Regions from separate parts of the Homo sapiens genome. Here all the other regions are reported to be linked to region 2. Evidence: microRNA targets listed by miRTarBase, many of them from high-throughput screens and not tested one by one. Region 2 holds a microRNA gene; each other region holds the end of a gene's coding sequence.

Region 1 (3,000 bases), not on the chromosome of region 2:
GGGGTTTTTATAGGCATAGCATGGGGTTGGGCAGGGTCAGGGGTGGTTTAGGAAAAGGTGATATCCAAGCGAGAAAACAGGGATATAAGTTCTCACTTTGGGCTGCAGTTTCAGGCTTTTTGGCTTGAGGGTGGGGTTTTGCCTGGGAACTGCCCTTTTCTGCCTAGAATTTCTCCACCCTCTGTCCCTATCACCCTCAAGGCCCCACGCTTCCTGGGGTAATAGGGCCTGGTTATTTCTACACAATGTGAGAATTCTCCAAAGAGCAGCCCTAGCTTTAGAGCTCCCCATAGAGTTGGCAGAAACTTTCTCAGATCTGCATAAACATCTCTTATGGACTAAATTGCACCCCCCAAAATTAATATAGTGAAGTCCTCACCCCCAATATGATGACTGTCTTTAGATACAGGGTCCTCAGGGAGGTAATTAAAGTTTACTGAAATCATAAGGGTCAGGCCCTGATCTAATAGGACTGATATTCTTAGAAGAAGAAGAGACACCAGAGAGATATAACCAGCTATATTTAAATACGTATTTTAATCATACTTCATCCAGTAGGAAAACAAATAAACACTGTTGATCTGTTCATGATCGAACACACAAACAACAAAAACCCACATGCAAACACATAGAAATAAAGTCAGTGAACAATCAATAGCTTAAGAACTCTGTGCCACCACTTGAGATAACAAAGCTATAGCAAATGCTTCAAACCCAAGTTCAGAACTCACTAATGGAGAATTAAGAACGATGATCAAGGACACAATTTTTGAATAGCACATAGGACAGAAGTGCCATCAAGGAAATTACTTGGAGATTAATTGTTAACTTACACCCCCATGTTTATCACGGCACTATTCACATTAGCAAAGATATGGAATCAACCTACGTGTCCATCAATGGAGGACTGGACTTTTTTTAAAGTGGTATCTTAAAGAACTAGAAGGCCAGGCACAGTGGCTCACACCTGTAATCCCAGCACTTTGGGAGGCCGAGGTGGGCGTATCACCTGAGGTCAGGAGTTCAAGACCAGCCTGGCCAACATGGTGAAACCCTGTCTCTACTAAAAATAGAAGAATTAGCTGGGTGGGGTGGCAGGTGCCTGTAGTCCCAGCTACTCAGGAGGTTGAGGCAGGAGAATCGCTTGAACCTGGGAGGTGGAGGTTGCAGTGAGATGAGATCGCGCCACTGCACTCCAGCCTGGGCAACAGAGTGAGACTCTGTCTTAAAAAAAAAACAAAAAAAAGAACTAAAAGTAGAACTACCTTTCAGTCCAGCAGTTCCACTACTGGGTATCTACCCAAAGGAAACAAAGTCATTATGTGAAAAAGACACATACACCTGCATGTTTATAGCAACATAATTAGCAATTACAAAGGCATGGAACCAACCTAAGTGCCCATCAACCAATGAGTGATAAAGATTGTGGTATATGTACAGCATGGAATACTACTTATCCATAAAAAGGAACCAAATAATGTCTTTTGTAGCAACTTGGATGGAACTGGAGGTCATTACTCTAGGTGAAGTAACTCAGGAATGAAAAACCTGGACTTGTTTGTATGTTCAACCAACATACATAAGATCCATATGAACATATCGTATGTTCTCAGTTATAAGTGGGAGCTAAGCTATGAGGACACAAAGGGATATGAACAATATAATGAACTTTGGTGACTTGAAGGGAGAAAGGTTGGGAGGGGGGTGAGGAATAAGAGACTACTACCACTTGGGTGACGGGTACACTAAAAACTCAGAAGTCACCACTAAAGAACTCATCCGTGTAATGAAAAACCACATGTACCCCAAAAACTACTGACATAAAAATAAATTTTTTTAAAAAAAGAAAACATGGTATGTATCTACATATGTCTATATCTATATAGATATCGAGGATATATACAATGGAGTACTACTCAGCCATAAAAAAGGATGAAATCATGTCTTTTGCAGCAACATCGATGGGACTGGAAGCCATTCTCTTAAGTAAGGTAGTAAAGAAACAAAGTCAAATGCTGCATGATCTCACTTATAATTGGGAGCTAAACAATGTATACGCATGGGCATTATAACAGAATAATGGACACTGGAGACTGCAAAAGGTGAGAGGGGAGTGAGAGTTTAAAAACTGCCTTGGCCGGGCGTGGTGGCTCACACCTGTAATCCCAGCACTTTGAGAGGCCAAGGCAGGTGGATCACAAGGTCAGGAGTTCGAGACCAGCCTGGCCAAGATGGTGAAACCCCGTCTCTACTAAAAGGCATGGGTGGCACACACCTGTAATCTCAGCTACTCAGGAGGCTGAGACAGAAGAATCACTTGAACCCGGGAGGCGGAGGTTGCAGTGAGCCGAGATCACTCCACTGCACTCCAGCCTGGGAGACAGAGTGAGACTCCGTCTCAAAAAAGAAAAAAAAGTGCCTTATGTTCACTATTCAGGTAATTGGTACGCCAAAAGCTCAGACTTCACCCTTATGCAAATGCATGTTAAGAAATCTGCATTTGTACTCTCAAAGTATAAAAAAATGTTTTTAATTTTAAAGAGTAAGAATTTCAAAATAAAACATTTTTGCCATTGGTGCTCACAAAACTTCTTAGTCCTGGGGCCAAGGGATCCATCACAAACAAGAGGCTGCCCTGCTGAGGAGACTCCCCAGGGCTCCCTTCACATCCTTGTTCCTCAGGCTGTAGATGAAGGGGTTCAACATGGGGGTGACCACAGTGTACATCACCGAGGCCACGGAGATTTTCTGGGAAGAGTGAGTCACCGCAGAAGTGAAGTGGACCCCAATGCCTGTCCCATAAAATAAAGAAACGACGGAGAGGTGAGACCCACAGGTGGAAAGTGCTTTTTGTTTTCCCCCAGATGAGGACATCTTCCTTATGGATGAAGCAATTCGTGAATAAGAGAAAATGATCCCAAGGAGGGGAAAAACGCCCAGCACACCCGTCATAAAGTATATCAACGTGCTGTTCAGGAAGGTATCAGAGCAGGCCAGCTG
Region 2 (3,191 bases):
AGGAAGCTGAGGCAGAAGAATCATTTGAACCCAGGAGGCGGAGGTTGCAGTGAGCTGAGTTCACACCATTGCACTCCAGCTTGGGCAACAGAGTGAGACTCTGTCTCAAAAAAAAAAAAATTGGTTTCTATCTCATAGGGCTGTTTCAGGAACAAAAAGAGTGAACTGTGTAGAACGGCACCTGCGCACAGTCAGAACATGCTAGAGGTTGCGTTGCTATTACTAATATCACCACGTTGCACTCACAACCGAGGACGGGAGAGACTGCTTGAGATGAGAGCGGGAGCTGAAACTCAAACCCAGCCCGATCTCTCTCCTCCTCCACTTCCCCCATGGTCCCAAGAAGTCTCTTGCTTTTAGAGGCTGTGGAGAAGTGGCACTATGACACCCAGGGAGAGGCAGAGGACACATGGGCAGCCTGCTCCACGAGGGTGGCAGGTGAAGGCTACGATACCCAGGATGGGCCAGAGATGCTGGGGTGTGCCCGGGTTAGGAACACTCAGAGTGAGGCAGATTCTGGGCCTTTACATGCTGGCGGGGTCCCCGGGTTGGGGGAGATTAGGCGGGTTCTGTACAGCCCTGGGGCTATGGAGGCAGGTTTTGGCTCAAGGCACAAAGGACTTTCTCATTGTCAGGAGTGCCGAGGAGGGCTAGAGATAGTGAGGGAAGGTGGTGCGAGCCCCATCCTCCGAGGCATGCAAGCAGGGCCCAAGCCCTATCTTCAAGCCCCACCCGTGGTCTGTGATGTCCCTGCTGGGAGAGGTCTCCCTGGAGCATGTCACCTTCTGAAGACCACGCGAACCTGGGGAGTTCAGCAGAACCCTGAAATGGAGCTTGGGAGATTCAGAGCAGGAACTCTGGGTGCCTGGCTCACCCCAGCTCCTCTCCAACCCTCTGCAGTTCCCTCCACCAGGAATGGTCCTCCCTCAGAGCTGGGTATCCCCTCCTGCAGGAATCCCCCCTCACCTGAGGACACTCTTAGTGGATTAGGGACTCTCCTGCCTGTCCCTTGTGAGCACCGAGAAAGCCATGCCTGTGTCCCCAGCACCCACCCTAGGGCTGGCCCCAGTGGCACTCAATAACTGCTAGAAAGTGATGGCTGGAGGCAAACCACTACCCCTGCAGGGGCCCTGAGAAGAGAAGGTGGAGAGATGCGGCAGCCCCAGAGCCCTGGGGTGACCTGGCCCCTTCCCATCCCCCAGCCCCCCTCACCTGGAGCACAATGGCTGGCACCGAGAAGATCATGGCTTCGTTGAACACCGGGTTGGGGTCATCCCTCTTCACGGCTGTCTTCTTTTTGCTCATCTTCCTCCCATCCTGCAGCAGGTACACCTTGACGAAGGGGTCTGTGGGCAGGCGGACAGGTGAGGGCCAGTGTCACACTCACTCACCACAGCCCTGCCCAGTTTGGCTCCACCCACCGACTCCAAACTCCCCAATGCTTAACTGTTGCTGTGACCTCCTGCAGCCCTGCCATTGGTCCTTTATTATTTTTCCCATTTCACAGATGAGAAAACTGAGGCTCACACAGCACGTCAGGTGAGGGCTGGGCTTTGTGCTCAGGCAGCTGCCTCACAGCCCACGCGCTCCCCTCCTAGGATGCTCTGGGGAACTCAGCAGCCCCACCGTGTTCCTTCTATAAATGGCCCGAGTGCAGACGTCAGCCCTGAGTCACCGGGCACCCGCACAGCAGAGCCTGACTCAACCGTGTGCGGCTCTGAAATAACAACTTGCCGTCTGCCCATCACCTATTGCCCACGGGGTGTCCTTGCCGCACCTGCCTGGAGCTGCCCCCCCCACCTACCCCCGCCCCAAGGCTTGCAACTCCCAATAGATCAGGCTCCCCCAGCCCCTGGTCTTCAGTTCTCTAGAATACAGCTGCCTCCACGGTCACTGCTTTGAGAGGGACTGGGGACTCCTGCAGACCTAAGGCATCGGGTCCTGCCTGGCACCCACCCCAACCCCGTGGCCCTGGTCCCTTTTTGGAGTCTGGGATACTGCCCTGTCTCTGGGAATGGAGTCTCCACCATGAATTCCAGTTCCAGGGAACAGATGCCCACCTTGGTTCCCTGCCCAGTGCCCCCAGCCCTGAGTGCGGCCTCCTGCCCTGAGACCCCCGCATCACTCTGACCCCCTTCACTCTGCCCTCACAGGGGCCCCTGCCACCCTCCAGGGATCTCATGTTTCCCCGGCTGGATTAATTGTCCCCATGCCACCCCCTATCCATCTGCATGACTTCTGGGCTCAGCAAAGCTGAGGGGGACCTTGGCACTGTGTCCCACACCTGCCGATGCCTCCGGGTGCCCACAGCACAGCAGCTGGGCCACAGCTTCCACTGAGCTACGTGGAGGAGCCGGGCTGCCGGCTGGGCCTTACCCGCTGTGGTCTTGTCGTTGGTCCAGATGAGGTTCTTGGCCTTAACCACGACCACGGTGAGGCGCTCGGCTGTGGGGAGGTAGCTGAGGGAGAGCAGGATCTCCCCCACAGCATCGGCGGCCTGGGGGACAGACAGGTGGCTCAGAGGGCTTCTCCCCACCCGACTTGAGGGGTCCAGGGAAAGCCTTGGTTGCCAGGGAAAGGCTGGGGCTTCCTTCTCCATAGAGAAGTGGCTGCACTGGGGGCCCCTTACCACAGGGCTCCAGGCAGGCAGGGACAGCCTGGAGAAAGGGACAGCCACCCACCCCCCGCCACTGCATGGAGCATGCCCCACTCCTCCCTTCCACCGGGAGGGTCCTGCCTGGGGCGGAGGGTCAGAGGCGGCCTGTCAAATGTAGCTATCAAATGTAGTTTCGTTCCCTCATTGCAGGCCAAGGAAAACACTGCGGTAGTAATACACAGCGATCAGAGTGGAATGGAATTAGATTCTTTGATTAAACAACAATGATGTTCTGTGAGCATTCCTACAATTATAAAACTAAAGTGCAGCTTGGTGTCTGTCTGAAATCATCCCCTCTAAGGCTAGAGGAATGTTTCTCTAGCAGAAGCTCAGTAGGGGTAGAACCTCTGAAGCTTTGGTGGCAAAGCAGCAGACGAGCTGTAAACAGTGGTCGGGATGTTTTTGAAATTTGCCTGCAGCAAGCAGTTTCCTCGGATGTGGCTCAGGTCTTCTTCTCTGCTCTCCTAATGATGATGGGGCTCAGGCTATTGCAGAGGATGATGAGGATGATGGAGTCCCTTCCTGGAAGTGTATG
Region 3 (3,000 bases), not on the chromosome of region 2:
TGAGTTGGTCACCTGTCACCAGCTAGAAAAACCCAAGCCAGAGTTGGTTCTGCTGGACTGGTAAGATGTCCCACCCCAAACTGACCAACTGAATCAGCATTTCTAGTCTTCTGTGCAATTGCCTGCAGTCGTATAGACCCGGTCATGATGGCAGAGAATAAAATCTTCTCTCACACCGGTCTCCAGTTACAGAGTTCTGATCACTGCAACCGGGAAAGCTGAGAACTCTTCATCATCTAGCACATTTGCGAAATTCATTGGCTTTAACAAACTGTTCCCCAAACACCTGGCCTGTGCGGTCTCCTCTCACCAGCATGTGCTCTGTCATATTCAGAAAGTGCTTATAGGCTCTCGCTTGCCTTGAAAAATATCCATCAGCTATCAGAAAAGCTAAAACCCATCGTGGCTCTGGTGAAACGTTCACTTCAGGGAAACACACAAGCCAATTTGGTCCGACTTAATAAGTTTAACAAAATCCAGGTGAAGGAATCTATCTGGAAAAACAGAAGACTCTTATGAGCAGCTCCAAGAAATAATTCTCTCGGGAAAGGGGAAAAAAGATGTGAATTCCTCCATACCAGGGTAGAAAGCAAGATGAAATTGGGTCTCACAAATGGGGAACATTCACGTAACCCCGACCTAAAACGGTGGTTTCCAAATATCTTAGGATTGTGAGACCTTCCTGGATTTTCTTCTCATGCTTTGTCTTAGAGGTAAAATCATGTTTGAAACTCACAAACTGTCTTATGATCTCTCACCCCCCACCCCCAACAAAGACCACAGACAAGAACATCATGGAACCAACTTTAAAAACTCGAGTCTGTCTCATTCTGAATGTGAGACATGAGGGACACCATTCCTAAAGTTTAAAAGAAATTGTTCTGCATTCTGGCAGGATCTGCTCTGTTTCATGCGCAGAGCGTACGGCCATGTCTGCAACTCGGGAGAGCTCCATTTAACGTGTGCGAGGACTCAGTAACATATAGCCATGCTTTTTACAGAGCCCTTGTGTTCCCAGATTGGCTTCAGGTTTGAAACCCTAACCTTCAGTTATGTGTCCTGTTAATAATAGGTCTCACCTCCCCAAGCGTACAAGAGACGAGAGAGCTAGCAAGGGAATGGTTTCCAGAGTGGGAGAATCCGAGAGAGAGGGCAAGACTGCAGCCTGGACCAACCAATCCATGGAGAATACTGCTCACCCACCTGCAGGCTCTGCCATGTTCCTCCTGACACCCCCAGGGATCTCCTGCCCACCCCCCAATATACCACCCAAGGGACACGTGGGACCCCACAAAGGCACACAGGCACTGGTGTTGAGAGCCGGCTGCATGAGGTGAAGACACAGATCCGCTCCTTAAAGGGAAGGTTTAGAAGTGCATGGCTAAAATCCAACCCAATTATACAATGATTCTTGGCTGAGAATAAGCTAATGGCTGGAGCTCTATAGAATCTCAAGATTTTTCTATGAAAGTCCTACCACCAAACAGCTGTGAAAATAAACCAACGTTCCTTGATGGGCTTCCTCCAAGTGCGGGACCACCCCAAACCCTGCTGTCTTGGGCCACTGTTTATCACAAACACTGCGGTCTACATCCAGAGGACGGATCTCAAGGGGAACTTTCTGTTGACGCTCCTTCCACAACATGGAGATGGGAGACAGGCACACTCAGAGATGATCAGAGATGACAGCAAATGCCATCTTCAGCTTTCCAGGCCAGTGATTTAAGTGCAGGAACAGGGGTGGAATGTAGTGGATATTCACTTGGAAGGTGTGCAAAGTCTCTTATTCACAGAACTCCCATCTCCTAAACAGAAATGACAAACCCCAAGCAAAATTCAACACATCTTTTTTATGTATAAATGGGTCAGTGGTACAGAGGGAGTTACTTTTTATAAATATCTGCAGCAAATCCCCTAAAAAAGATGTGAATAAAAACTCTCTCTCAGCACAAAGGGCCTATTCCTTCCCCAAAAGTGTTAAATTCCCGAGAGCCTGTGCTTAGCCAAACACTTGTGGGGCCTCCTGGGAAGAACAGGAGGACTTTGGGACCGAGAGGAGAGCCTTCCCATCTCCCCGGAGAGCGGAGGTGACTTGAAGGTCATCTGTTGCCCAGGACTTGGGAGTGATTAAACTGTTTCTTCCCAAGACTTGAGGTCTTCTTTGTCAAGCTGCTGATTAAGCGGTCTCTCTGTTTCCTGGCAGTGGCCCAGAGGGAGGGAGGAGAGGAACCTACAATCGCGTGAGGAAGTAAAAAACTCTGGGTATTTTGATAAAAAAAAACACTTGGTAATCACTGTAACCCTGTAAAGCCGATGTATCGAATTCACCAGAGGGAAAATTGTAGATTAGCATTCTGGAAGCTATAAACACAAGCATTTCTTTAGGAAGATCATTACTTAGCACCAATGTCTCTCTCTCTCTCATAATTTTTCCTTTTCCTCCAAGCCCTTGGCTGTGATCAGTGCTGTCGGACCACAGCTCAGCAGTACTTTTAATCAGTAACACAGCTGGGCTCGAAGGGGAGTGCCGTCACATGCCACAGAACAAACAGCGCGCTCACACCAAACGGCAAGGCTCCTGGGGGCATCCTGGCTGGGGAATCGCAAGCGGACCCCCGGCCTCTTCCTGGGGCTGCTCTTTGGCAATCCAGGCTCAGGGGCTTTACTCGAAGCGACGCAGGTGGTTGTACAGCGACTGGACGTAGGTGAAGACACACATGGGGTCCGGCTTGCGGCCCATCACCATCATGTCCTCCACTTCGATGAGGCGCTCACAGTTGGCCAGATTCCTGAAACACACAAGCCCCGTCAGAACGGTGGTCCCAGCCATCAGCCAGCCCCACAGCCGCGACAGGGCCGGTGTCTCGGTCCCGGGAACAGAGCTCAGCCGGCAGCCAGAGGTTCCCAAGGACCCACCAGCGGGGAATTCAGATAACCCTGGCAGAACCCTTGGAGTCACTGACTCCAATACAATGTTTCCCAAACTCCCAGATTTATGAG
Region 4 (3,165 bases), not on the chromosome of region 2:
AAAGAGTTTTGAAATTCTACTTCCCAAGGATATTTAACTCTCATACTTGATAGTTTGGTTGGACATCTCCTTACATTTTCAGAAACGTAAAGTATAGAAAAATATTTTCCGTCATAAAATGAGACAACATTTATGTGAAAAAGTGAGGTAATATTTTCCTAAATGTATCCATCCAAACTCTGAATCTGAAAGATCAGTGCCTTCTGCTTCTCTTCAAGATGTGGCAAGTCTTAATTCCAAATAGGTGAATTTTATATTTTTATTTCTTTTTGGTTTTCAAACAGGGATCTATTTGTGATGACTATATGGCAACTCTTTGCTGTCCTCATTGTACTCTTTGCCAAATCAAGAGAGATATCAACAGAAGGAGAGCCATGCGTACTTTCTAAAAACTGATGGTGAGTCAATGCAAACATGCCTCTCAGAACATGTGGGTTTTTAGAAATATCACTAAAGACTTTGTCAATTATTTGTTGTTTTGAATAATTCAGCAATAACTATTTCTTAAGTCTCCTGAAGTGCTATCATAATATCAAGATTGGCTTTAATTTTCTTCTTATGAAGAAGATAGCTCTATACTTTGAAACCATATTTTAGTAAATAAAGGAATGGTGAATTTTCTAAACTTCTCAGAATTCTGGTGATCTATTAAGGAAGCACTTACCACTTGTAAAATACCAGAGTATGGTGAGATACAAAAGAATTAGAAAACATGTTCCCTGCTAAGACAAACAAGTTGACAAAAGGAATTCGTAAATAATTATAAAATAGAAGAGTAAAGAAAATAACATTCTGTATGATATTTGGATTGATTGTGGCATAAAGCATCTATCATAGCAAGGTGAGGTTAAATAGAAAACTCCTGTTGGAGAAGCTGAACTTTGAAAGAGGTGAACATAGAATTTAGAATGTTTGGAAATGTTATATAGAATTAACCATCTGAAATTCAATCAAGTCATTTTCAACTAATTTTTCTCAGGACTATCTATTGAGGATGTAGTTAAGTAGAAATCAACATGACTTACTCCATCCCCTGTAGAATATATATTAAGTATGGGAAGAACACAATTTTTCTACTCTTTGTAATATCCAGTTTCCTTCCTGAAGTGATAAGGACTCTGTATGGGTTAATAAAAATAACTCTTGGGAGATACGTAAAAAAATGTTCATTTACTTAGCAAGTAATGTATTAAGGATCTAGGATCAAGTATATATTATCTTAGCAACTAATGTATCAATGTATCAATATCTAAGACTAGGTAAGATACTGTTAGGTATTGTAGTAGGGTTGGGGAGCAAGATAAATAAGCTAGTCCCTCTGTCATTATAGAATTTATACGAAAAAGGGGGATTAGACAAACCCCTAACTAAAATGCAGAATTCAATTAATGCCTATAGACAAAGCGGTATTTTATGTTCAGAGGAGGAAAAGATCACATCTTGTAAGATGTATAGGTGAAAGTTTCTTGAAAGCAGTGATTTTTAATTCTAAAGGGGAAGTGCGTATTAGTTCTCAACAAGAAACAGATGGCACTCAAACTGTGATAGTTCAAAGATTTAATGAAGACTAATTATAAAGGTGTGGGTGGGGCATTGTAGGGAGATGACAAGGGATGGCATAATAACCTGCCTGGCAACAGCCCCAGGGAGGAGAAGAGGGAGCAGTGACCTGAATCCTTAAGGAGAGAGCTGTGTGAAGAGGCCTGCCCTGAAAGAAACAGTATCCTCTCAAGAGAGGGTTGTGAGCAGCCCGAGGCAACCCATAGAACTGAAAAAGTACCCTGACCTCACTTTCGGATGTCCTTCTGGTTTTCCCATTGGCTGAACCCACCAGAAAGGCAGAGGGCAGCAAAGTGTCACGGTAGTCCGCAGGTCGCTTCCCAGGGCACACAGCAGGATGGTCAAGGGAGTAAGTAAATCAGATAGGGGCAAACAGAGGATCACTGACTCAAGATGTGGTTTTAATTAATAGAAATGGAGGCTGAGTGCAGTGGCTCACACCTGTGATCCCAGCACTTTGGGAGGCCAAGGCAAGAGGACTGCTTGAACCCAGGAGTTCAAGACCAGCCTGGGGAACATGTTGAAACCCTGTCTCTTGAAAAAATACAAAAATTAGCTAGGTGTGGTGGTGCACGCCTGTAGTCCCAGATACTTGGGAGGCTGAGGTGGGAGGATCACTTGAGCCTGGGAGGTAGAAGCTGCAGTGAGCTATGATCACACCACTGCACTCCAGCCCTGTCTCAAAAAAAAAAAAAAAAAAAAAAAGGAAAAGAAAAAGAAAAGAAATGAAATGTTGCTTCTAATCAGCAATATTAATGAAACTAGAGAGGCAAAAACAGAGAAAATATCTTTATGAGCTTAGGTCCAACTTGGCTAGAACATATGGCATAAGTAGAAAAATAACGAAAAATAAAAGATTTTAAAGGCCTTAGCATGCGATGTCTGAATACTAAGCTAATGACTTGGTAGGAATTGGGAAATTATTGCAGGCTTGAAGTAAATGAATAGAACTACTCTTTAGAAATATGAATCTAAGGCTGGGCATGGTGGCTCATGCCTATAATCCCAACACTTTGGGAGACCGAGGTGGGAGGATCACTTGAGCTCAGGAGTTCAGCACCAGCGACCAGCCTGGGCAACATAGCAAGACCTCATCTCTACTAAAAAGTAAAAATAAAAATAAATAAAATTTTAAAATAATAAATATTAATCTAATAATAGTATATAGTACAGATTGTACAGGATGAGGCCAGAAGCAAAGATGGGGAGTTAGATCATTCCAACACTGTTTACTTAAATAAATACATGAAACAATTTGGATCAAATATCTACCCACACATTCATAGTAATGAGTCCTGATAGCTCAAGTGTTTTCTTTAACCTCAGGGAAAATATCTCACTGAATCTTTAGGTGGGTTTGAAGTAAAATACCTTGGCGGTCCTGACTCCTCCTCATCAACTTGGACCCTACATCACTCACTGGCAATAAAACTTTAGACAAACAGATATCGAAATGGGGAGCTAAACAAGAGAGAAAGAGCAAGGAATAACAACATGATTTACGTTAAAATAGATTGAGATGAAGGACATAGGAATCCACTGGAAAAGCTCCCCATAGTCCAAACTGGGGCACTTTGAGGAACAAAATAAGGTCGTGTTAGATTA

Evidence for each region. Region 2 holds the annotated microRNA hsa-miR-6860 (ACUGGGCAGGGCUGUGGUGAGU, at 1,386-1,407, opposite strand). A microRNA usually pairs through its seed, bases 2 to 8, with sites in the 3' UTR of a target mRNA and lowers its output. Matches are read on the target gene's strand: a 7mer-m8 pairs with bases 2 to 8, a 7mer-A1 pairs with bases 2 to 7 and ends in A, and an 8mer does both.
Region 1: the mRNA of OR7D2 is a reported target of hsa-miR-6860. Seed matches in the 3' UTR shown: 7mer-m8 at 1,201-1,207.
Region 3: the mRNA of SMTNL2 is a reported target of hsa-miR-6860. The part of its 3' UTR that is shown has no 7-base or 8-base seed match.
Region 4: miRTarBase lists PLAC8 as a target of hsa-miR-6860. The part of its 3' UTR that is shown has no 7-base or 8-base seed match.

What each region holds. Positions count from the first base shown.
Region 1 is chr19:9,186,337-9,189,336 of GRCh38, reverse strand. OR7D2 (olfactory receptor family 7 subfamily D member 2) reads right to left here. Exons shown (of 3, transcript NM_175883.4): 3 at 519-3,000. The coding sequence ends at 2,617. Among named protein-coding and RNA genes, the nearest start is that of OR7D2, 8.9 kb to the right of the region's middle.
Region 2 is chr11:67,043,899-67,047,089 of GRCh38, reverse strand. It overlaps MIR6860 (microRNA 6860), which reads right to left and starts at 1,447; the gene lies at 1,382-1,447. SYT12 (synaptotagmin 12) reads right to left here. Exons shown (of 8, transcript NM_177963.4): 6 at 2,377-2,497; 7 at 1,213-1,346. RefSeq lists enhancers at 685-764, 865-994.
Region 3 is chr17:4,607,150-4,610,149 of GRCh38, reverse strand. SMTNL2 (smoothelin like 2) reads right to left here. Exons shown (of 8, transcript NM_001114974.2): 8 at 1,831-2,789. The coding sequence ends at 2,663. Among named protein-coding and RNA genes, the nearest start is that of LINC01996, 1.8 kb to the left of the region's middle.
Region 4 is chr4:83,091,911-83,095,075 of GRCh38, reverse strand. PLAC8 (placenta associated 8) reads left to right here. Exons shown (of 5, transcript NM_016619.3): 4 at 285-398. The coding sequence ends at 389. Among named protein-coding and RNA genes, the nearest start is that of PLAC8, 21 kb to the left of the region's middle.